2 separate regions of the Homo sapiens genome follow, and region 2 is linked to region 1. Evidence: fine-mapped expression QTL. A gene starts in region 1. The other region holds a variant in brackets. All regions are shown on one strand. Distances are between the middles of the regions.

The links. PIP is the estimated chance that this variant, and not a neighbour inherited with it, causes the effect.
Region 2: its variant is fine-mapped to the expression of C1orf141 in hippocampus (GTEx, PIP 0.98).

The regions. Positions count from the first base shown.
Region 1 is chr1:67,124,726-67,141,554 of GRCh38, reverse strand. C1orf141 (chromosome 1 open reading frame 141) reads left to right here and starts at 6,585. Exons shown (of 8, transcript NM_001276351.2): 1 at 6,585-6,625; 2 at 10,328-10,413; 3 at 14,298-14,389; 4 at 15,646-15,803. The coding sequence starts at 14,315. It also overlaps a transcript of IL23R not described here. RefSeq lists an enhancer at 3,842-4,352.
Region 2 is chr1:68,098,736-68,106,735 of GRCh38, reverse strand. It overlaps GNG12-AS1 (GNG12, DIRAS3 and WLS antisense RNA 1), which reads right to left. Exons shown (of 10, transcript NR_040077.1): 4 at 7,900-8,000; 5 at 6,944-7,007; 6 at 5,962-6,038. It also overlaps a transcript of WLS not described here. Among named protein-coding and RNA genes, the nearest start is that of DIRAS3, 52 kb to the right of the region's middle. The variant C/T (reference allele first, on the strand shown) is at 3,000.

The DNA.
Region 1 (16,829 bases):
ATCTCCTGGCCTCAAATGATCCTCCCACCTCAGCTTACCAAAGTGCTGGGATTATAGACATGAGTCCCTGGACCGGACTTGTAAAAACTTTTTTGAGTGCCCCGTGGAAAGAAATTTCAAACTTTTTTTTTTTTAAGAGGCTTTTGACTTTTCCAGTCTCACAAGAAGAAAAAAGTCTTTTGGCCATGTTGAAGTGTTTTAATAACTTGTTGGCTGCAAAAATAATACATTAATAGTTTCTACTATGAATTAGTCTGTGCATTTAGAAAATACAAAAGTATACAAAGTAGAAAAATATTTCCAAGATATACTTTACCACCCTAAGATAACTATCTTTTGAGGATGTTTTATTACAGATCTTTTTCTTTGAACAGAGACTTATACTTTGTCTTAAAAGAATCATTCTGTGTATAAAGCTTTCTAATCTTATAATTTCTTCAATTAACACAATATCATACACATTTTCCTATGTTATTACGTATTTCTTCATACCTCTTGTAACAGCTGCATCATATTTATCATCCTATGGCTAGACAAAAATTTTGACAAGAAAATCTAAAAATAGTAATTCAGATCATAGGCTTTGGAAAAAAATATAACTGGGTTTAAATTCTGAATCTGCCATTTACTAGATTTGTGATCTTGATCAGAATATTTAATATCTCTAAATTCATTTTTTAATCTATAAAATGAAGAATAAATGAGACAATGTATGTGAAAATGCAATTGTTGACACATAATAAATCTAATAAGTGAGAATTCAATAAATAGATGATAGATGTTATTATCAACTTTTAAATTTTTTACCATTATAAAAAATATTAAATAAAAATCATCGTTACAAGTTTTGTTCATTTCTATGATTAATTTCTAAATATTAATTTTTGGAAGTGAAACTGCTGAGTCAAAGATTAATACATTTTTTAAGGTTTTTACATAAACTGTAAATTCCCATCCTAACAATGTACAGTTCAACCAGTAGAGCATAGATGTGCATCTTTCTCTGTTCCTTTCCCCAGCTTGCCAAGATGATAAGAAAAAGATTATATTTTATTGGCTTAATGTACATGACTTCGACTATGTCATTGAACATCAAATATATAATTAATGATCATTTGTAGGTATTCTTTTATAAAGTGACTATATTCAGCATACATTCTTTTTCATTATGGTGTTTGTCCTTAGTGATTTGCAAAATTTTAAGATACTCTTTGTTTATACACATTTCCAAGTTTAACCTATCTTACATTTTTAATGACTTTTTTTGACATACAGAAATTTTAAATATTTATGAAATCAGATCTAACAATTTTTTACTTTAAATATTTTGCTTTTGCATGCATAGTAAGTGAAGCCTTGCAAGATGCTATCTTAGTCCATTTTCTGTTGCTTGTAACAGAATATCTGAAAATGGGGAATTTATAAAGAAAAGGAATTATTTCTCACAGTTATGGAGACTGAGAAGTGCAAGGTTGAGGGGCCACATCTGGTGAGGGACTTCTTGCTGCTGGGAGGTCTCTGCAGAGTCCCACGGTGGCACAGGGCATCACATGGTGAGGGGGTTATGCTTGCTCGCTTAGGTTTCTCTTCCTTTTCTTATAAAACCACCAATCCCACTCCCATGATAATCCATTAATCTGTTAACCCATAATTCATTAATCCATTCATAAGGGCTCTGCCCTTATGACCCAAGAACCTTTTAAAGGCCCCACCAAGCTGGGTGCAGTGGGTCTTTCCTGTAGGACAGCTACTGGAGAGGCTGAGGTAGAGGATGCCTTGGGTCCAGGAGTTTGAAACTAGCCTAGGCAACATAGCAAGACTTTATCTTTATTTTAAAAAATATAAATTAAGGCCTCACCTCTCAATACTGCCACACTGGAGATTAAAGTTCAACATGACTTTCGGAGGGGACAAATATTCAAACTGTAGCAGATGCTATACAAATGAATATGTTTACTGTTGTGATCTTTAAAAACATAAGTAAATATTAAGTTGTGGTCTTTAATAGAAGAAAAAGACTTATGGGGAAAAAGCCTAGGACTGAAGAAGTCAAATTTTTGTGAATATGAGTTTTCTTAGAACTTATAATCAAGTTCAGGTAGCAGTTTTTGAGCTATGTTGTGTGGACTGTGTGGTGACAGGGAGAGTGCTGGAGGCATAGAAACATAATGAACGTTTCATGTACCTGCTTTTTGCTAGGCACTGTGCTTGGCCTAGCAAAAGTAAATGACTGGTAAATCATTTACTTCTCAGACCAGCCCTCTGAGATAGTTAATCTATCCATTTTATGGTTTCCTTTCATTTGACAAATATTTGTTGAGCATATTATCAGTCTCTAGGCTTACTTCTATAGAAAAATAAATCAGACTGGTTTATACACAAAGAGAACTTACTGGATCATGTTAGCTGAAGAGGTCTAGAGTAGCTCTAAGTTCAGTGATCGCTTGACCCTGGGCTCAAATGATACTGCCCAGGTCCAGCTCTCAGTTTTCTTCCCCTGGATTGACTCCACTCTTAGGATCTTCATAGTGGCTCCCATAGCATAAGGCTCAAATTGTCATAACAGGCAGACTAGAAGAGGAAGTCTTCTTCCCTGAAGGCTCAAAGTCCCGGAATAAAATTGTCTGGGCCCTGACTGGCCTCCCATTAGTCACCTGCTTCTCCCTGAGCCAGTCACTGTGGTCAGGGTGTTGTGATCTCATTGGCCTAACATAGATAACTTTCTCCATCCTTAGAACCAGGGGGCTGCAGAAGTTCTGAAGTCCCTGTGCTGAGGGAACAGCATGAAAAGACACAGATATAAAAAGCCCAAAACTTTGTGAAAATTCCCATTAAGTTACAAGGTAGTCACTTTCTGTACCATGGGTTTGCTGAGATAAAGCTAGAAAGACAATCAGAACTCAGTTCAACATAGAATGGGCTCAGATGGTAGAAGTTCTATATTCTATGCTGCATGGTTTTGACTGAATTTGGAAGGGAATGTCAAGCCTAGGAAGGAAACAAAGGGAGAAAAAAAACACACACACAAACAAGAAAGAATCCCAGGGTACAATGATATTTACAGCAGGCAGAGGAAGAAAAGTAGGAGAGAGTTGTGTAATTGAAGCCAAGGGAAGGGAATGTTTCAAAGAGCCAGAAGTAAAACGTGTCCAATTCAGAAGAATTGTCAAGTAACATAGGACCTGAAAGACGTCCATTGGATTCACAAATAAAAGAGACAGAAGGTCATTAAGTGACCAACTAGCACATTATCTAGAATAAGAGAAGTAATGGGCAGAAGGGATAACAGGTAGTGATCAGAGAGGACCTGTTAGAGCTTAATATTTCAGAGTTAGGGGATAATGAAGTAAAGATAGCTTTAATCTGGAAAGATAATGAGTTTTGAGGCAAAACTATTGGCTTAATGGATTTATTATGGAAAGGAACATTGGGAAAGTCCCCAAATCTGTAAAAGTGAGAAATGCCTGGGAATTTGTTAGTAAATATGTATGGGGAGATAGTTGTCATTAACCTCAGAAGAGGCAGCTTTTCCTAAGGAAGAAGAAACTTAAAGATGTGAAAGGAACATTAGGAATGGTGAAGAATACTGACACTTCTCCCAGGCTTCATGGTTTGTGTAGGGCAAGGGAAAAAAAATGCTCTTTTCTCAAGAGAGGACAGAAGGCAGGGGTGGAGAATCACAGGCTTTTCACCATTTGGGGATGATTAAGTACAAATTTTGATACTTTCTAAACCTAGTAGGTATATAGTAAAGAATTTATAGGAAAGACTCTCTTGCCCAAAGAAAAGAAAGTCCGGCCTTTGCCCTTGCCTTCTGAGATATAATCTCTGGGCCCTAGGAATGTTATGCCTGATAGAAAGAGCTTTATTTGCCTGGAGACCTTGAGTCATATGAGATAGTCTAACAATGTGATTTAGGATGGGGAGGTGGCCACACCTGCATAGTCTTAGAGTAGGGACTGGCCACTCCAGAAAGATCAACAATGTGACTTAAGGCAAGGGCTTTGGGTCACGTGGTATCCATCAACTTGGAGATAGAGATTAACCATGTGGTTAATCAACCGATTATGCCTGTGTGATGAAGCCCCACTACAAACTCTGAACACAATGATTGGGTGAGCTTCCCCGGGTGGCAGATCTCCATGTGTGCATTGTCATTCAACAATGCTAGGGAGTAACCTGTCCTGACTCCACAGGAAGAGGACAATAAAAGCTCCACATTTGTTATTTCGGGACTGACTCTGCCCTGTGAACTTCTTTCCTTGGCTAGTTGTAATCTGTAACCTTTCCCTGTAATAAACTATAACCCTAAATACAATAGCTTTCAGTAAGGTCTGTGAGTCTTTCTAGCAAATTATCGAACCTGAGGGTTCTATTCAGGGTTTTGACGGCCCCCTGAACTTGGTGTCAGAAGTAAGGGCAGTTTTGGGGAATGTGCTTTCTAACTTTGTAGTTGGCCTACTTCAAAGGAAGCAGGAAAAAGTCTGCAGATTTTATTTTCTTTGTTTTCTTATAGTATACAGTTTATATTTTAAGAAATCTGTATACTTTTAAAATAAAACATTCATTAGGCTCCTTTACCCAGTATTTATCTATAATAGGTTCATGAACTCATTCAGTAAATACTGAATTTAACTGAGAGCAATTAAAGTAGTTAGGAAAAAATCCACTTGAATTCTTTTTTGTGTACATTTACCAAACATTTGTTATTAAAGAGAAAATACTTTGTACTTTGTGTTATATTAATAATTGTATTACTAATTATAAGATGCTGGGCAAATCACATAGTTTCTTTGAATTTCAGTCAGGTCTTTTCTAAAATCAAAGATAATACCCTTTCCATAGATACGAATTAAGGTTTAAGAATGAAAAGTAAAGGATGAAATTAGAACTATTTTAAAGTTGTAGCCTAGTACCTGACATGCAGAACGTGTTCCATAAATATTAACTGAGATAATGATAATATTCTAAGAATTTCATAAGATTCATGCTTTACAAATTTTATTGACTGAAGATTAATGAGTAGCTAACGTTTCTGAACTGAATTCTTAAGAAGCTAATTTTCACCTCTGTACAAATTTTTGAGCTGAAGGTATTACAACAATCTTAGACAAATCACCACTATCAACTAGATTCCAGTTATCAATTCCATACAAACCATTGTTCCTGAATGTATATGGCTTAAAAAATATAATAGAATCAAGCTACCTTGGCCAGTCGCAGTGGCTACTCACATCTGTAATCCCAGCACTTTGGGAGAACAAGGCAAGAGGATCACTTGAGACCAGAAGTTCAAGACTAGCCTGGGCAACATAGTGAGACCCCTGTCCTTACAAAAAAATAAAAATAAAAAAATTAGCCTGGCATAGTGGCATGCACCTGTAGTCCTAGCTACTAGGGAGGCTGAGGTGGGAGAACCACTTGAGCACAGGCGATTGAGGCTGCAGTGGGCTATGATCACACCACTGTGCTCCAGTCTGGGCAACAGAAAAGAATCAAACTACCTTCTACTTTTAATGATTGTATTTTTGTTTTTTAAATATTTGAAATAAATTGATTCCAGTGTTTTCATGCATTGACTATTAATATCAATTTCTAGCCAAATTTGGATTGCTACATAACTATACTTTTTTTTTTTTTTTTTTTTTGCAGTTTTGCCATTGCCACTAGCACAGACTTGTGATGATTAATTCTGGTGCTTTTTTTCCTTTTCTTCTCACAGATGTTGAAGTGCTGTTTTTTAAAGCTTTTCCCCCTATTTTGATGCATCAGATAAGGTACATTCTTGGAATGATGAACAACCCCTGACTTAAAATGTAACCAATATTGTGAAATTCCCCATCATTTTAAATTAAATACAAGCTGTTTTCAAGTCAGTCATTTTTAGATTATGGCTCTAAAAATAAATGATTCCCATGGCCTTAGTGCATTTTCTGCTCACACAAGTGAGCAATAAGGACAAATGGTTCCTTAGGATACAGTAAATACAGCAGAATGTATGTCAGTGTATCTCCATTATGTCTCATAAAAATGCTAAGTGGTATGTGTGTGTGCAGCCAAGTCTGCTACACAACTTGCGTAATACAGTGGTGATTTTACTAACCACACGGGAGGTTTCTTGGCCTTGGAAATAAGAATGGTTTTTTGTTGTTGCTGTTTTTAATATCATAAGCCATGAAAGCAATCTTCCATCAAATATTCAAATATAAACTGTTGACTTCCATTCAGACCTGCAAGCTGTATGGTGGACTTTGTAAGCTTCTTTTTGAAATTCGATGTTTCCAGGAAAGCACAAAAGGAGAAAGGAGGTACAATAAGGGGAAACAAAGTCACTGTTCCCCAGTTCTTTTTACTTGATCTTCTTCTTTTACTTGACTCTCCTTCCACTCCTTCAGCATAATCGGTTTTAATATCCGTAAGCATCTGGGGAGTCACCTGGGCTTTTAGTGACAAAAGTCTGTGGGCGAAGCCCCTCTGAGAAGAGAACTCTGCTCTCTAGGCCTTTCAGAGGTAGGCAGAGCTCGGCAACCGGTTTCTACGGACCGAGGACGCGTTGCTAAGGGACTGAAGGGTGGGGGCGGGGCGAGTAACCCGCGGAGCCAGAAGAGGGAGGAAAGGAGATGAGGTTTGTTTCAGGGTGCGGAAGGGTTGGAAGAGTTGAAAATCAAAATTTGCATGAGGGTGGGAGGCGAAATAGGAAAAACGTCGTTTTACATAAACGGCCTTTCTGTCCCCGGAGTCGGTGGGACGTTCTCCAGCGGGGCCTGGACCGGGAGAGTGTGGTTGAGGTCAGGCAAGTGTGGGACCGCGGCGAGAGGCGAGCCCGGGGGGCTCTTCCAGGTTCGCGGAAGAACCCTTTGCATCTTCTAAACTAAATATTAATGAGCTTCCTCAATGTTGCCCTTAATTTTGCTTTCCCATGAAACGACCATAGGCATAGAGCGTTTGAGTCGGGCTTCCTATGTTTCCAGCGAGATGGAGGCACCTGGGGGAAGGTGACTCGGGGCCGGGCAAGAGATGCGAGAGGCTCTGGGGGCCGCTTAATTGATACATTTCCAAATTGACGACTCCCAACATCCTGGAATGGATGGTGGAAGCTGATCGCCCCTGCGGTAATTGTGCTGCGATTTCGAGCTGGCTAATCAATTCTTGCAATCATTATCTGATTAGTCGCCCACAATAATACTCCACAATCCACGTACATCATAGTTTTAAAATTCCTTAGTAGTTTTTCTTAGAAACTTCCCTTCCAGGCCGGCGCGTTGGCTTACGCCTGTAATCCCAGCACTTTGGGAGGCCAAGGCGGGCGGATCACTTGAGGTCAGGAGTTAGAGACCAGCCTGGCCACAGTGGCGAAACCCCGTCTCTACTAAAAATACAAAAATTAGCCGGGCATGGTGGTGGGCGCCTGTAGTCCCACCTACTGGGGAGGCTGAGGCAGGAGAATCGCTTGAACCTGGGAGGCGGAGGTTGTAGTGAGCTGAGATCGCAGCCACTGCACTCCAGCCTGGGTGACAGAATCAGTGAGACCGTCTCAAAAATAAAAATAAATAAATAAGGGACAAGAAAATGCATAATGCGGAACTAAGCACATAGGTCGGGTTTTTAAATTAGTTCTCAGTGCCTGGGCTGTACTAGCTTGCTGGGACTGTCATGACAAAACATCATAGACAGAGTGGCTAAACAACAGAAATTTGTTTTCTTACAGTTCTAGACACTAAAAGTTGGAAATGGAGAGGTGGGCAGGGTTGTTTTCTTCAGAGGCCTCGCTCCTTGGCTTGGGGTGGTGGCTGCCTTCTCACTGAATCTTCACAACGACTTTCCTCTGTGTATCCTCGGTGTCCCAATCTCCTCTTCTTATATGACACCAGTCATACTGGCCAGAGGCCTACCCTAACAACCCCATTTTAACTTTACTCTTTAAATGCTGTATGTCCAAATACAATCACAGTCTGAGATCCTGGGGCCTAGGACTTCAACATACGAATTTAGGGGCAACATAATTCAGCCTATAATATGGGCCATTTATCAACATTTTAGATTTAAAGAAAAAAGATTCCCCTAAGTCTATCCTTGGAATGTGAGATGGAGATAACTCAGCCAGTTATCTAATTATTGAGTAAACATTAATCATTTAACAGATGAAGTGAGTCCCTACTGTGGTCTCAGTAGTGGACTGTGTCAGATAAGAGTGTAAGAAGTGGCCTCGTCCTCAAGGAGTAAGCATTTGAACTGATAAAGCCACATAATGGAAGTGAATTTTAATTTAAGCCTGCATTTTCTAGATAATTTCTCAGGCCTTTAGTTTGTAACTTTAGAGATTCTTAGTTTTCCTGAGTTGTTTAGAACTTGCTGAAGAACTCTTCTCAGCTGAGCCTATTATATTGACGACACTGGGTTTTGTTATTTTTTGTTTGTTTGTTTTTAGTCCCAAAGGTGCTGTTAAAATAAAATTGTTCTCTTAAAATATTTAAGACATTTTTATTTTAGATATGACTTAGTCTCTGATATGCTAATAATATTGACCTACAATTTTTGTTGAGAGCAAGTTTTTGCAGTGAGGCCTGTAGATGATTCACTGTGAGAGTAATTGGGAATTCATTCTGCCCCAATTGGCATGGCCTCTATTTCATTGTGTTCTTTAAAAACAAACGAACAAACAACAACAAAAAACTGTCACTACTGTGCTAGAAATTAAGAACATAAATCCAAGTTTCCTTTCAAAACAATTTTACCAAGTTTAGATTGGCAATAACCCCATTTTATAATAATACACTCAACTTTTTATTTCATCTTCCAGTAAATCATTATGAAGTAACATCATTTATTACAGATAAACTAGGATTACTCTTCCTAAAAATTTATATTCAGAGACATCTCCAAATTAAATTGTAATTTTCAAATCCCCGTTAGATGTAAAACGCTTTGCCTGAGGCTGAGAGTCGGAGGTGGATAAGTCAATTCTTGCTTCAAATGAGCTTTCAACCCAGTAAGGAAGAGATCTGTCAAAGAGTAAACCTCTTTTTTTTTTTTGAAATGGAGACTCGCTCGTCACCCAGGCTGGAGTGCAGTGGCACGATCACACCTCACTGCAACCTCCGCCACCTGGGTTCAGGTTATTCTCCTGCCTCAACCTCCAAAGTAGCTGGGATTACAGGCGTGCGCCACCATGACCAGCTAATTTTTTTTTGTATTTTTAGTAGACACAGGGTTTCACCATGTTGGCCAGGCAGGTCTCGACTCCTGACTTGAAGTGATCCACCTGCCTCAGCTTCCTGAAGTGCTGGGATTACAGATGTGAGCCACCACGCCCAGCGAGTAAACCTCTTAAAACCTGGTGTAGTGGCTCTTGCCTGTAATCCCAGCTACTCAGGAGGCTGAGAGGCTGGAGGATTGCTTGAGGCCAGGAGCACACAATAAATAGACTGTCACCGAGACAAGGAATGAGACAATGCCAAGGAAAGTTTCATAGAAGAGGTAGTCATGACTGGGCACTGTAATCCCAGAACTTTGGGAGGCCGAGGTGGGCGGATCACAAGGTCAGGAGTTTGAGACCAGCCTGGCCAATATGGTGAAACCCCATCTCTACCAAAAATACAAAAATTAGCTGCGTGTGGTGGCGGGCACCTGTAATCCCAGCTACTCAGGAGGCTGAGGCAGGAGAATCACTTGAACCCGGGAGGTGGAAGTTGCAGTGAGCCAAGATTGTGCCACCGCACTCCAGCCTAGACTGCGAGACTCCATCTCAAAAAAAAAAAAAAAAAAAAAGAAGAGGTAGTCTTCATACCATATTTCATAAAGAGTAGGCTTTTGACTGGAAGACATGTGGGAGAACATTCTGAGTAGAAGGAAATGCAGGAGTGAATGGTGTGCTTGAGAAAAGGGCAGGACGTGTCCAGGAAGTAAGAGTGGTAGAAAATGGTGGAACAGAAAGGGGAAGGAGGAATAAACTAGAAAGGTGGGCTGAGCCAGATCCTGGACTATCTTTTCTTGGATGGTCTCATATGTCATCTGAAGAGTTTGGGTATTCTTCAGGTTATGAGAGCAAGCCAAGGTTTGTGGGCTGGAACTGGTCCTGATCAGTGTCCTGTTTAAGAAAGACAGCTCTGATGGCATTGCGTTTGTTTGTTTTTGGTTTTTGAGAAGGAGTCTCACTCTGTCACCTAGGCTGGAGTGCAGTAGTGTGATCTTGGCTCACTGCAACCTCCATCTCCCGGGTTCATGGGATTCTCCTGCCTAAGCCTCCAGAGTAGCTAGGATTACAAACATGCACCACCATGCCCAGCTAATTTTCTTTTCTTTTTTTGTATTTTTCTTTTTTTAATAGATTTCATCATGTTGGCCAGCCTGGTCTCAAACTCCTGACCTCAAGTGACCCGCCTGCCTCAGCCTCCCAAAGTGCTGGGATTACAGGTATGAGCCACTGCGCCCAGCCCATTTAATATCGTCTTGATTCATTTTGCATTAAAAGATTAGTAGTTAGTTTATGCAAAGTAGTTGGGGAACACCATCATATTAGTACTGATGTTCCTTTGCTCTCAGCATTTATTTGAGGAGACACAAAATAGGCCCTTGATGAACTTATGAAATATAATGATGAAAGCAAGCAAGTTAATCTATAGTGTTTCCTCACCTCCACTTTTTCCCAGGGCCATTTATCCATTAGGCACCATTGGCACATTGCCAAAGACCGATGGGAGAAAAGAATTTGCAAACTGAAAAAATTGTATTAGTTTCAAAATATGAAATTAATACTACAAAACTAACATTCAGTCAATTTCATTAACCGGCAAATTTAGTATTCATAAAACTGTTGTTGACCCTTGAAAATAATTGGTTAGTTTTTCTCACTTCAAAAAAATTCATGATCTGCACAGTGATTTTCCAGAAATCATTCATAGCCAAATAATTTACTCTTAGCAAACTATTTTTAAAGCAAAAACATAAAAATTATTTCATGCTATGGTTAACTGTATATAGAAAAATACAGCTGTGTGTGCATGTGCGTGCATGTGCGTATGTGTGTGTGTATAATGGGATGACATTTTGCCTCTTAAAATGTCCTATGTGGTGTTGAAGATGGGGTGACTAAAAGTGAGAGGTGTAGGACACCTTACTGTAAAAAGATCTGCTTTCTGTTCTTTCTCACAAATGAGCAGCATTGTTTCAGCTGGCCCTCATGTAGTTTATACGTTCCCCAAACTGGGAAACTCATTCACTTCAATACATTGATTCTTCCAGTTATTTACCTGTGTCTTGCTGAAAAATAGAAATCTTTGTCTCCAGTAAAATAAACTTAGGTGGGGAATATGAAAGCCTTCTCCCCCTCTTGAACTCATATTATGTTTAAGGGAAACACAAAAGCTAAAACTCCTCGGAGAGTTTTAGTTTAGTTTAGTTTTACAAGAGGGATGTTTCTTGGGTCTGAAAAGAAAATATGTCCACATAATCATAATGTATGTTCTCTTTCAAAATCTGTCCCCTATTGTCCTGTAAGAAATCCAGAAAGTCATCAGCATTCACATTATGCTAATGCCTTTACCCTGTCAATGTCAAATAAAATATAGAGACTAATCTCTAAAATCAAAATATTTATTTGGGAGGAAATAATTGCAATTAGGGCATACACACAGAGCAGTAGTCTTCAGTATATTCTGAAGAACAAAGAATAGGTTAGAGGTTTTATAAAACCAGGAAATGTTACAAATTGGCACTAGTGAGGTTTTGAGGCACTGACAAGATTGGTAAGTGAAGGCTGTGGGCAAAATTGGTTTAGAGTTGCCACAGGTCTTTTCAGTAGCTATTAGATACAACTGGTTTAGGTCACAGCAGTCAATTTCAGCTGCCAGACTTGCAGAGGGACTGCATTTTTGGAGCGATGTTCTGTGCCCTGAGTGTTTTCTCTTACCCTGGCTTCTCACTGTGTTTTAGTTAGGTACCACAAGAGTGACCCATTTCATATGATCAGCTTTCACAATCCTGGATCTCCCCTTCCCAGTGTGCAACCTGAGGTTGTGTGGTTCGTCACAAGGCAGGCTATCTGCTTGCACCCCCATGGCCCAGAATTTCCTCTGTGTAATTTTTTTTAAAGAAATGGGGTCTTGCTCTGTCACCCAAGCCGGGGTGCAGAAGCATGATCATAGCTCACTGCAGCCTCAAACTCCTGGACTCAAATGATCCTTTTGATTCTCCCACCTCAGCCTCCCCAGCAGCTGGGACTATAGATGCATGCTACTGTGCCTGGCTACTTTTTTTTTTTCTTCATGAGATGAGGTCTTGCTATGTTGCCCAGAGTGGTCTCAAACTCCTAGGGTCAAGCAATCCTCCTGCATCAGCCTCCCAGGTAGCTGGGATTATAGGCACACACCACCACACCCAGCATGTCTGTATACTTTATTTATCACACTGGACTACATCGTGTGATGGAGGGAAAATCTGGATGTAGTGACGTGATAGAGGGCATGCTGGGATGGGATGTCATTCAGTACATGAAGAAATCATACTCAGGGCAATGTATGGTGAAGGAAAAAAGAGTAAAAAAAAAGCTGAAGGAAACCAATTACAAAATAATGTAAACTTTTGGCATCGGATCCTGAATCTTTCTCCTTTCATGAACTGTTGTCTCCATGTGGCATTGCTGGAATAATATACAATATAGGAGAAATATCAGAGATTTTTCTGAGCTGGAAAGAACCTTAGTATTAACATTAATATTCATTGAAAACATTGATGATTCTGTACTTTCTGTGAACGATATCACTTTTACACTTAAATGCCACTGGAGCCCATTTAATTCAGTGAGCAAAAGTATACTGAATGCATGGTCATCTACACAATTTTTTTTTTCTTTTTGAGACAGAGTCTTACTCTGTCACCCAGGCTGGAGCACAGTGGCGTGCCATCTTGGCTCACTGCAACCTCTGCCTCCTGGGTTCAAGCGATCCCTCCTCAGCCTCCCAAATCGCTGGGATTACAAGCATGTGGCACCACGCACAGCTAATTTTTGTATTTTTAGTAGAGACAGGGTTTCAGTATGTTGGCCAGGCTGGTCTTGAACTCCTGACCTCAAGTGATCTGCCCGCCTCGGCCTCCCAAAGTGCTGGGATTACAGGCATAAGCCACTGTGCCTGACCCATCTACTCAATTTTTAAAATAAATAAATAAATAAATAAATAAATAAATAAATAAATAAATAAATAAAGGGAGCTTTGGGTTGATATTCCTGGATTCTTGCCTCCACTCTGCCCTAGCTATTTCTATTACACTAATAGGGTACTCTGTGGCCTTCAGTTTTCTCATCTGAAGATGTAATAAATTAGACCAGGTTCTGATGTCTCATACAGCTCCCTAAGCTTAATATGGACTGCTTGACCTCAGATGAGACGGTTAGCAATATTAATTAACTAGGAAATATGAACCATTATGGCAATGGGACCTAACCAGCTTAGTTGCTGCTACTTATGTGTGACTAATTGCCTGCTACATGCTGTTAACAGTCTTGGATCATTGACCAATTTAATTTGAAGCAATTAATTATATAAATATGAGTTCCCTGTGTTTACTTTCATTAAAATTATATCATGACAAAAAGAAAACAGATATGTCCAAAGTCCTACTCCTGGCCAGGCACGGTGGCTCATACCTGTAATCCCAGCATTTTGGGAGGCTGAGACAGGCGGATCACTTGAGGTCAGGAGTTTGAGACCAGCCTGGCCAACATGATGAACCCCTGTCTCTACTAAAAATACAAAAAGTAGCTGGGCATGGTGGTGCACACCTGTAATCCCAGCTACTCAGGAGGCTTAGGCAGGAAAATCACTTGAACCCAGGAGGTGGAGGTTGCAGTGAGCCAAGATCACACCACTGCACTCCAGCCTGGGTGACAGAGTAAGACTCTGTCTCAACAACAACAACGACAAAATTAAGTCCTACTCCTAGCTTGATATATTTTTAATTAAAAAAATTTAAAAAGAAAATAGATATAAGTCAAGCCACATGGTCTTGCTTCAAGTATAAGTCACATATGGTTCTCATGGTAATCGTGAACTTTCTCCCCCTCACCTTTATCATAAATTTAAAAATTCATGGGGCCTATACATATCTGGGAGTTCTGATCATATAGCCTTCAATTGAAAAAACTTGGGTACATTTACAATTCTATGATTTACTGTATGATTTAAACAATTCTATTATTTACCTAAAACAGTAATGTAAAAGTGAGTCTTTTGAAAACTTATGCCTAGTTTTATGTTTAAATTTGAATTGATTTGTTCTTCTTCCTCCTTATTTTAAAATAGGAATTTAGTGATTGACAATGGCAGAAAAAATCCTAGAGAAGTTGGATGTCCTTGATAAGCAAGCAGAGATAATCTTGGCCAGAAGAACAAAGGTTTGTGACGTATAAGCTACAATTCAGTTTAATCATTAACAGGTTAACATTTCAAATGTGAATAATTTTACTTTTTAGCTAATGATACATTAATATGATATAAACTAATTTGTAAAAAGCAACTAATTATACTAGTTGAAAATGTAATGTATACAAATATAAAAATTTTATTGCTGATGTACAAAGTTTCAACGAATCATCCCATGAAGGGCTTTTGGATTGTTTTGACGATTTTACTAGTAAAAATAAAGCTGCTTAAAAAATAAAATAAAGCTGCTATGGACATTTGCATCCAGGTTTGTATGAACATGAGTTTCCATTTCTCTGAGGTAAATGCGTGAGAGTGTGATTGCTGGTGCGATCTTTCTCTTAACTTTAGCGAGATCAAAGCCGCAAGATTTGGTTTGAGTTCCCCCAATCCAATGGGTTTCTCCTCCCTGCACCTCAGCCCTGAAACCACCTCCAGGAAGTAAGCTGGGCTATTAGAGGGTAGACCTCAGTTATTTCCCTTCTTTCAGCGATCTGTCCTACTCTGTTTTCTAATAGCTGGGGGCAGTTGTTTTCATATATTTTGCCTGAGCTCCTAGTTGTTGAGAGCAGGAGACTAATTCCCATAGTGCTCCATCTATTGGCAGAAGCAGAAGTCCCCCATATCCTTTGATTTTGCTTTCAGGGTTTTCATCTCTTTATTCTTTTGAGCTATGCTCTGAGATAATTTTTTAGAGAAAACTTTCGGCTCCTTTACTCACCTTTTAGCTAGATCCTTTTTCTTCTTCAATCCATTTGTATAAGGATTTTAACAAAGTCCTCTTTTGATTACTTTCTTCACTCTATTTCTGGCTCTCACGACTAGAGGAAGATTGGTGTGATTCATCGTGCGTGTGGCTACAGGAAGAGGAGCAGGCTGGAGGGACATGCCTACTATGGTTCCAAGAACTCTATGTATCTAAATATGTAGATCTTTCCTTAAATTCTGTACTTTAGAATTAGGAGGGAGCCTTAATAATCCTCAAGTCCTACCCCCACATTTTACAGATGGGAAAAGAACAACTCAGGTCACACAGCAAAGGCATAAAAACAGTTGGTGCACTAGACCCCCAATTTTCAGTCTGTACTATTTTTCCATTATTGCCTGCCACCTAAATTCTGTGTGTGTGTGTGTGTAAAGTGAGATTTTTTTTCTTTCCACCTAAGATTTTCCCCATATAAAAAGTACTCTTTTTTTTTTTTTTTTTTTCACTTTGGCATTGCTGCAGATAAACAGGCTTCAGAGTGAAGGAAGAAAAACAACTATGGCTATACCCCTGACATTTGATTTTCAGTTGGAATTTGAAGAAGCTCTTGCTACATCCGCGTCTAAGGCAATATCAAAGATCAAAGAAGACAAGTCATGCAGCATTACAAAATCAAAAATGTAACTATCATAACCACCTTAAATTTTCAGTTCAGAATTTGTTTGTTTGTTTGTGAAACAAGGACTCACTCATTGCCTAGGGTAGAGTGCAGTGGTGCAAACATGGCTCACTGCAGCCTCAACTTCCCAGGTTTAGGTGATTCTCCCACCTTGGCCTCCAGAGTAGCTGGGACTACAGGCATGCACCACCATGCCCAGCTAATTTTTTGTATTTTTTATAGAGATGGGGTTTTCCCATGCTGCCCAGGCTGGTCTTGAACTTCTGGCCTCAAGAGATCCACCCACCTAGGCTTCCCAAAGTACTGGGATTACAGGCATGAGCCACCTCACCTCGTCCAGTTCAGAGTTTTAAAACATTACTTTATATCTGTCTTAGATTATGCAATGTATATTAAATGAAAGTTTTATGGCATATGTTATAAGGGTTATGAGTTAAAATATACTAGATTAGCTTTCTGAATATTTCTAGTTTATAAAATATTTATTATGTATAATATTTTACTAGTGTAGATGGTAATTACAATTGTGAATTTTTAAAGGAAGGCTTTTCTTGAGCTCAATTATATTGCCCCAAATTAATGTCAGGATTTATTGCAAACTTTAACTGATATACTTAAGAAAAAGTCTGCCTAGAAAACTAAGTAAGGCAATTTCTCTGTGCACTTAAAAGGGACAGCCTAAATATGTCATACTTGGTCTTTCACTGGCATTTAGTACTTGCATAATGCTATAAAATTTTTCCAAGCACATCAGAATTGTAAAGGAGAGTTCAGAAAAAAGAAGTACAAAGATGTGGAATCAGTAGAACTTCAAATTAATTGGACATTGGTAGTAGTGTGGATACTGTCCTTATCTCATTTATTCTGGGTAACAAGTTTTCCTCACTTGTTCTGTGCCTAAGTACAAAGCACTACTGTGCACCCAGTTGCCAAGCCCAAAAGCTCACAGTCATCCTATTGAATAGGGTATAGTAATGATGAAGAGAGCACAGGCTCTGAAATCAGACTGCTAAGGTTTAAATCCAGC
Region 2 (8,000 bases), 970 kb before region 1:
ACACACACACACACACACAGTGACAAACACATGCACACGCGTTTCCAGGTGCCCCTTGGGTGGGGAAGTGGGAAGCAGTCTGTCTATGCATGAGAAGCACTGAGCTGCCTACACTGAAATGTCTGCCACCATTGAACAGTGAGCAGCAGGTACCTAGGTTTGCAAGGGACACGTTTCTGGAATGGAATTTTGATTGTTTTGCCTCCAATAACCGTATACTTTCCCAGCTGTTGCTCTGTGGGGCTCCCAGACCTGAAGGACACTGGTCTGGTGTCCCAGAGATGCTGTCTTTATCCTCCAAACTTCCCTTAGGAACACTCAAGCTGCAGAGGTCACACACACTGGGAAATTCTGAGGACATCATCACCCAGGCCCACTGAGGGCTCCCTTAGGCCCCCCTCGAAGTACCCTCTGCCCACCCAGCCTCGGCATCTCCTCAAGAGCACTCACTGCTAACTCCCCTCCTGGCCATTGAGTCCGGCTGCCTTGCACTATCATTTATTTCTTTATGAATGGCTCGAAGTGCCTTTTAATAAACCACTCCAGAGTATATATATTATGGATGTATCTACATCTTAAATATAGAGCATTGCTATGGGAGTTACTGTTAGTTGTTTTTGGCTGTGATTCTTCCTAGTCCTAACTCCCCACCAAGAAATTCTGAAATTTCAGAGCGAGGTACTTGATTTTTCATATTAACACTTTGATTGCAGTGACCAATGTTTAGTTTTAGGTCATCATTCTGAAGGAAAAAAGAGAAGTGATTATGTATCACCATCTTTTCTTTTCTCTCATCCCTCAGACCCTTACACCAATCCCATATCCTTTTCTTTTTGGAGCCCGGGGCATTCCTTTTTCCTCTTTTCTCCTGACATGTCTCTGTCCACTCATCTGGTGTTAGGTGTACGGTACTGACATGTTTTCCCTGGATGCAGCCCCAGAACCCAGTCCTGTCTTTCCACCCCTTATTTCTAGCAGTTCAGGCAGGTTCTGGCTCCCTTAATGTGAGGCCAAAATCACTAACACCCCTCACCTTCCAAGAAATACATCTTTTGTGTGTTTCCCATTTATACGTGGTAGGTAGTTTCTTAGTAAACCTTGAGCAGAGTTCAGAGAGAAAATCAAGATGCCTTTTTCATTTGGGTTTTGGACTTCCTGGAAAGCCAAGGACCTTGTAACAGTGATTTCTGCCTTTGTTTCATAGTTTGGAATTTTCAAAGTTGCTACTCAAAACCATTTCTTTCTTTCTGGATTCTTTTTCTACAATGAGGTGGCACCTTGGTTATGGCTTTGTGGCATATAAAACTAGACTTTCCATTAAGAGTGACTGAACTGAATGAGAATTTAGCAAATTGTGTCTATTTTTATAAATCCCTGTTTTAAAACAATTAAGTAGCATAAAAACCAGTAGTACTAAACAATGCAAAAGGGTTATGCAAAGTATAAGCACTCAGGTTAGATGTCTTTTTCCAAAATCTTGCATTGTTACCTCTCACAAGGGCAGTATACTCTTAGGTAAACTACTTATGCTGCTTCAACAGATCAAAGAAAGCAAAACTCCCTGGCTCCTGGCTTTCCTCCAACTTTTCTGTCAATGAATTGGAAAAGAGAATAGACATTAATAAAGGGTAGATCAGACATCTAACCTTATTAAACATGCTGGTCTGGATAAATTAGAGCTGAAGAGAATGGGACCACATAGATACATCAACTATGCACAGGCAGTGACTGCCTAAGACTTCACAGATCAGGATAGGTAACAAAGAACCAGAGACAGGAGGGTGCAATCCCTGCAATCCTAAATTTTATTTTACTGAGACAGGTGTCTTGCTTTTTTGCCCAGGTTGTAGTGCAGAGGCACGATCATGGCTACCTGCATCCTTGGCCTCCCAGGTTCAAGCCATCCTCCCACCTCAGCTTCCTGAGTAGCTGGGGCTACAGGCATGCACCACCACACCTGGCTACTTTTTTAAAAATTATTTTTAGTAGAGATGAGGTCTCCCTATGTTTCCCTGGCTGGTCTTGATCAAACTCCTGGGCTCAAGAGATCCTTCTGCCTCAGCATCCCAAAGTGCTGGGATTATAGGTGCAAGCCATCGCACCAGGCTGCAATCCTGAATTTTAAAATACAGAAGGTGAACTCACAAACTTGACAGCAAAAGCAGGCAAGGAGCTAGGAGGGACCCTGGACACCCATAGTCCCAATAGAGCTGGGCTTAGGAGGGATCATATGATATTGCACCTACAAAGGAGAAATACCCTCCAAGTTTTCACTGATTGTAGAGCTCAACATGAGTCAGCAGTGGGATGCAGCTGCTCAGAGCAAATGTGATATTCAGCTGCATTAATGGAACTATTATGTTTCCAAAAGAGAGCACAATGACCTCCCTGGACTTTGCATAACTAGCTAAGTCTAGAATACTGAGTCATCTCCACCGATAATGGTAGTGATGATTCTCAGAACCATTTTGTATAAAGAAGAGTTTCGTGTGACTTTTCTCCTGGGAAACAGGGTCTGCACTTAGATTTTGCTTTTTTTTTTAAATCACAAACATTGCAGGGCCCCGAGAGACAGAAGCTGTGCATTTTATTCTTAATCAAACACTACATCAAGGAATGTTTAGTTTTCTCCCTACTGCTTCTGTCCTGTGCCTCAAGGTGGGACTCTTCAACGGTCTGGATAGTTCTGGGCCCTTGAGCCAGTGTGGCTTGCTGGGTGTGGGCCCTGTGACAGAGGTAGGGCATGTCTTATGAAGAAACCTCTGTGAGCTCCGCCAGACAGCCAAGTCAAGGAGGAAAATTGTCCCCTGCCCCCAGCACCCCATGTTTCAGTTCAATTTAAGGCAGATCTTCTAACAATCAGGGCTGTTTAAACACAAAATGAGCTGCTCTGGGAAGGAGCAAGTTCTCCATTTTTGGCAGTGCCCAAGCAGCATGTGGGTGACCCACTGAATACTGCTGTGGATTAAGGAAAGGCTTGGCGGGGATGATGCTGGGCA[C/T]GCCTCCAAACCCGACTCTGTGCTCCTATGCTTAGACCACCCTGGCCTCTTCTGATAAGACTTCCCAAATACCTTGCTTCTCCTCATTTGGAGTTAGTATCCCCCTACAAACTACAATTATAGGATTCTGAATCCATTTTAAAATAAAATGGAGTATTTATCCTCTTATCTCTCTCCATCACCACCAGTACAGCCTCCAATCACTCAGCTCTGACCACTTGAATCCATAAGAAGAGAAGAACTGCATAATTTTGTCTTTCTAGCTTTCCTGGTCCATTAGAAGGGCACCGCAGTGCTCCCTCTTTAATCCCTTTAGCTTTTTGGCAAAGCAGCAGGAAAAAACACCTTATGAGGAATGTGAACAGATCACAAGGGGAGCCAACCTGTGATTGTTCTTCTTCACTCACCTGCTTCCCAGTCAGTTCAGTCCAAATCCTTTTGAAGCAAGCACATGAATTGTTGCTACTTTAGGGCAATTACAGGATTTACAGATTAAACATATCCCCACTGGTTTCCCTAGCAACCGTCTTTGAATCACAGGATGAGATAAAACTATTGTTCTAGTTAATAGAGTCTGATGTTAAGAGAAGTCCAGCCATGTAATTCACAGAGGTATGCACCCTGGTGGGAGCAGAAAGAGCGCTAGGCAGGGAGGCAGCAGACCTACGTGCAGGTTCCGGTCCACTGGGGTCAGATACAGAACAGGAACATATCTCAAGACACTGGTGACAGTGCCCCCGGCAAAAAAAAGGGTTCAGAGCACTGCCAGGGGAAGAAAGATGCAGGTGTTTCTAAATGAGTGAAAACATTAGGCACAAAACAATCGAAGGCAAGGGGTCTACTTGGACAAAGCCAAGACACAGTGAGGTCAGGTGCAGGGCCCACTCCTCCAGCTGCCAGACCAGGCAATCAAGCCACCTTGGGCAATGCACATTATTATGTGGCCAGACCTGGGTGGGGTCTGGGAAGGTCAGCTGGCAAGAGGGGCATATGATTTTTGGCTTTTTACCTGTATAATAAGATGCTTGGGTTACATTTCAAGGCCCGTTCCAACTCTTCTGGGTAGTAGAGCTTCTCTGATTCTGAACCAATTGAGAAATAGTCATATTTCAGCAAATACAGATGAATATAGGACCTTTATTGGTTGTTGAGTAGGAGCCCTTAAAGTGGACCTGCAATCAGATGACCTTCAAAATGATACAACCCCAGCTGGGTCTGGACCTGCACATGAGGAGAATTGAGTCTGTGGTGCAGAAACATGGAGGTCAGATGCATGCCTCAAATCAATGAATTCTGGAGAGCAAGAAGAGAGACATCAACCTCCAGATCCCAGGCTACGATTCAACGGTTCTCCCCATAGGAAAGCAGAAGCAATGAAAAAATTGTCTCACAGTCAGCCTAAACAAGAGAGCCCGCTGTTTAGGACCCTTCTCCAACCTCCCTAAGAAGAGAAGTCATTCTTTCCCTTGGGAAGAAGTAAAAAGAGGAAGGGGCAGGAAATAACTTCCCAATCCCCCAGAGGACAGAAAGTCCTGTTACAGGCTGGGAAGAATGCAGGAGGAGAAATGTTTCCTCTAACACAGGGAGGAGGGTGTTGAATGGAATACCAAAGGCATATAGCTGGCCCATGGTAGACACTCCTTACTTGCCCTTGCTTCCCAGGAAACACAAGTCTAACCACCTTCACCTGTGTGTGCAGAGTCTGCAGCTCCCAGCAGCTATAACGAAGGTATTTACTGCCACCTACACACATAGTTCAAAGTCCCTTGGAAAATGAAAATCAACAGTAAGATATTTGATTTCTCTCCCGTAACAGCTAAGTAGAATGAATATATGAAGTTATTGAAATTTTAAGAGCGTATTTTTTGTTTCCCAGTATTTCTCGCTGTAACTATGAAGTTTTATCATTTTCCTTGTTAAAGGAAGAGAAAGTGTGTTTATAAGCGTGTATTTTGCAAAGCCCCTTGCAGCCAGTCTTCCTGAACTTTCACCATTGGGAGACTCACCCCCAATTCATGAAGTTTCTAGATTTCTTGTGCAATATCTCAGAGTTCCTCATTTAGTAAGCAGCATCTTAATAATACCAAGCCCTGTCTTATATTATATTCTGGACAGTGAACGTAGACATATTTGTTTAAGGGTCAGAGAGAGAAGACAGCACTCTCAGGAACACACTAGAGTGAGTGGTTGAATTGGATTCAGCCCTGCAACCCTTCTGTCTTTGTGACGCTTCATGTGATCCTATCGGGACTGAGCTTCAGGTTCTTTCTTTCCAGACATTCCCGTTCCCCTCTACAAGGTAACTAAGTTCATGGAGTAAGAGGACACGAATAAAGCCTTTCTGGGGCGGCCTCCTTTCTTCAAAGAGCAAAGGAAAACTATTTCTCTTCTGATAGGTTGCTGATGCCTATAATAATAATAATAATAATAGCAAATATGATGAACATTTATTGGCCCCTCTCTGCCAGGCATGGTGCTAGGTGCTTTGTATTATTTCATTTCTTCTTCACAACAACCCATGAGGTGTTGATTATTATCATCCCCATGTTACTGTTAACTGAAGAATCACAAGGTTCAGAAACTTGGAGAGGAGAGCTTTACTTCTAACAAAAGGTTACAGCCTGCAGGTGGCCATCCTGATAGGCTGGGAAGCATAGCCTCCAGCAGACACCAAAAGCAGGCACTTCAAGGGAGAGAGGGGTAAAGCAGGAATTTATGCTGAACGGTTTGGCCACGTTTATGTTTACATATTCAGCAGGTTACAGGGGGCAATAAATATTTAGGAAGTGGGGGATGCTCGCATACATAGTAAAGCAAACATGCATGTTGCATGTGTCCCATGTTCATGGTGGGCTGGAGACTTATCAGTGCTTGTTTAACTGCTAGAGTGAAAGAAAAAACCTTGAGGCAGTTACAATATAGTTTATTCCTTAAGAGGAAGGGTGTGTGACTTCATTCTTACCTGGCATGACCTTGGGTCCTGTTTATAATATGGTATCTTATTGCCACAAAGAGTCCATTCCGACAGCCTTATGATCTCTGTTTTGACATTACAGAAGAGAAAAATGAGGCTTGGAGACTCTCAAGTAACTTTGTGTGCAGTCTCACAACTGGAAAGTGGTGAGACTTTTGCCAGTTTAGACAATTCAATTTTAATTTCTAAATTTAAAACCTTTGCCTCCCACCTACCCATTCGCCCTCTTCCTCAAAGTTGAAGATTTACTATATTTAAAGGAACTCTACTATGTGTTTGCATATTCCTTGAGGGTTTGAGTTTAGGGGTCATTCACACCTGATTTATTCTTTGCTCTCTGTCCTTTAGGAAGAAATGAGAGTTTGGGGTGTTATAGAACAGTTGGGAGAAGGTAGAATTTTGGAACCTGTGGACACTCTGGGAAGGAGAGACAATAGGCTGCTTCTCTGCACCCCTCCACAGGCCAGCTCCAGGCCGAGATATTGGCAAGAGCAGCAGAAAAGAACCAGGGGACCAGGATCCTCAACTAACTTGTGGATCCTCAACTAATATGTGAGCTTGGCCCCTAGACTTTCAGTGTCTGGCTGCAGTTTCCTGCACTGTAACACAAACAGATTAGAATTGATGAATGTCAAGTTTCCTCTGAGTTTTCAATCTAGGTAATTCAATTCCACATCTATTAGTGAGAAAAACTGCTGGTAAAAACTGTTTTCTCTGAGAACTTTTTCTGCTTATTTGGCAAATGTTTATATAGTGCTTACAAGTAACTACTGTATACTCTCCTAAGAACTTTATGTGCACCAATTTATCTAATCCTCACAATAGACTTGTGTGGTATTGTAGGTAGTGATATTATCCTGTTATAGGTAACAAGACAGAAGCATGTGGTGATTTGCTCAAGGTCCTACAGTTTGTAAAAGTGAAGCCAAGTTGAATGTATGCAGTCTGGGTCCAGAATCCATGTCCTTACCTTGATATTATAGTCAGTCCTCTGTATCCGCAGGTTCCGCACCCAACCATGGATTGGAAATATTCTAAAAAATTAAAAATAACAATAAAAATGACACAAATGAAAAAATATAGTATAACAACTATTTCCATAGCCTTTATATTGTATTAGGTATTATAGGTAATCTAAAGATTATTTAAAGTATATGGGAGGAGGGGCATAGGTTGCATGCAAATGGTCCCTTATGCCATTTTACATAAGGGACTTGAGTATCTGCAGAGTTTGGCATCCACAAAGGTCCTACAGCCAATCTCCTACAGGTACGGAAGGATGACTAGAGCTTGTTTTTAATCTTATCAACATAGAATTGTGTGTCTGATCAAGTATTCCTCTTTAAATTGACAACCCAGTTACTTCTCAACTTTATTGAGTATACAAGCCCTGGGAGTGTGCGTTTTAGATACTAGGCTCAGCTTTCAGCTTTATTCTGCCTGCCTGTTTTTCTTTCATTCTTCACCCTACCAGATCTTTTTCCTGTCTCTGAGTATATCTCTTTGCAGTTCACCAAAACATCCTTTTTGGAAGATGATAAGACATATAAAAAAAAATAAAAATAAATTTAAAGATGATTCAATGACACAAGCTGGGAATCCTCCTAAGTGGCTTGCTGTATCCCCCAGTGCCTGTGCTGGGCTTTCACAGGATTTGGGAGAGAAAGTGGGGATGAGGGGGGCAGTTCTATCTTAAGATGAACTAGATACACGTTCTCAACAAGGATGGCAGTGCTGCTCGGGAGGTGTTGGAAAATTTGTTGAATGTGGAGGAACTGATTGTCACAATAATTGAGGGAGGAGGTGCTATTGAGATTTAGTGGGCAAGGGAGAAATCTGCAAATGTCCCACAATGAAGGACACAGTCCTAAACAAATTTCAAACACTCCACTAGAAATTTATGTAGGTAAAAATTTTTATAGTTACCTGAGCCTTGGTCCTAAACTCCATGTTACATATTTTTTTAAAAGGATATTTTGCATGGTTTTAAAATATACTGAATTTTCCAGGAATGCAACTCCCATGTA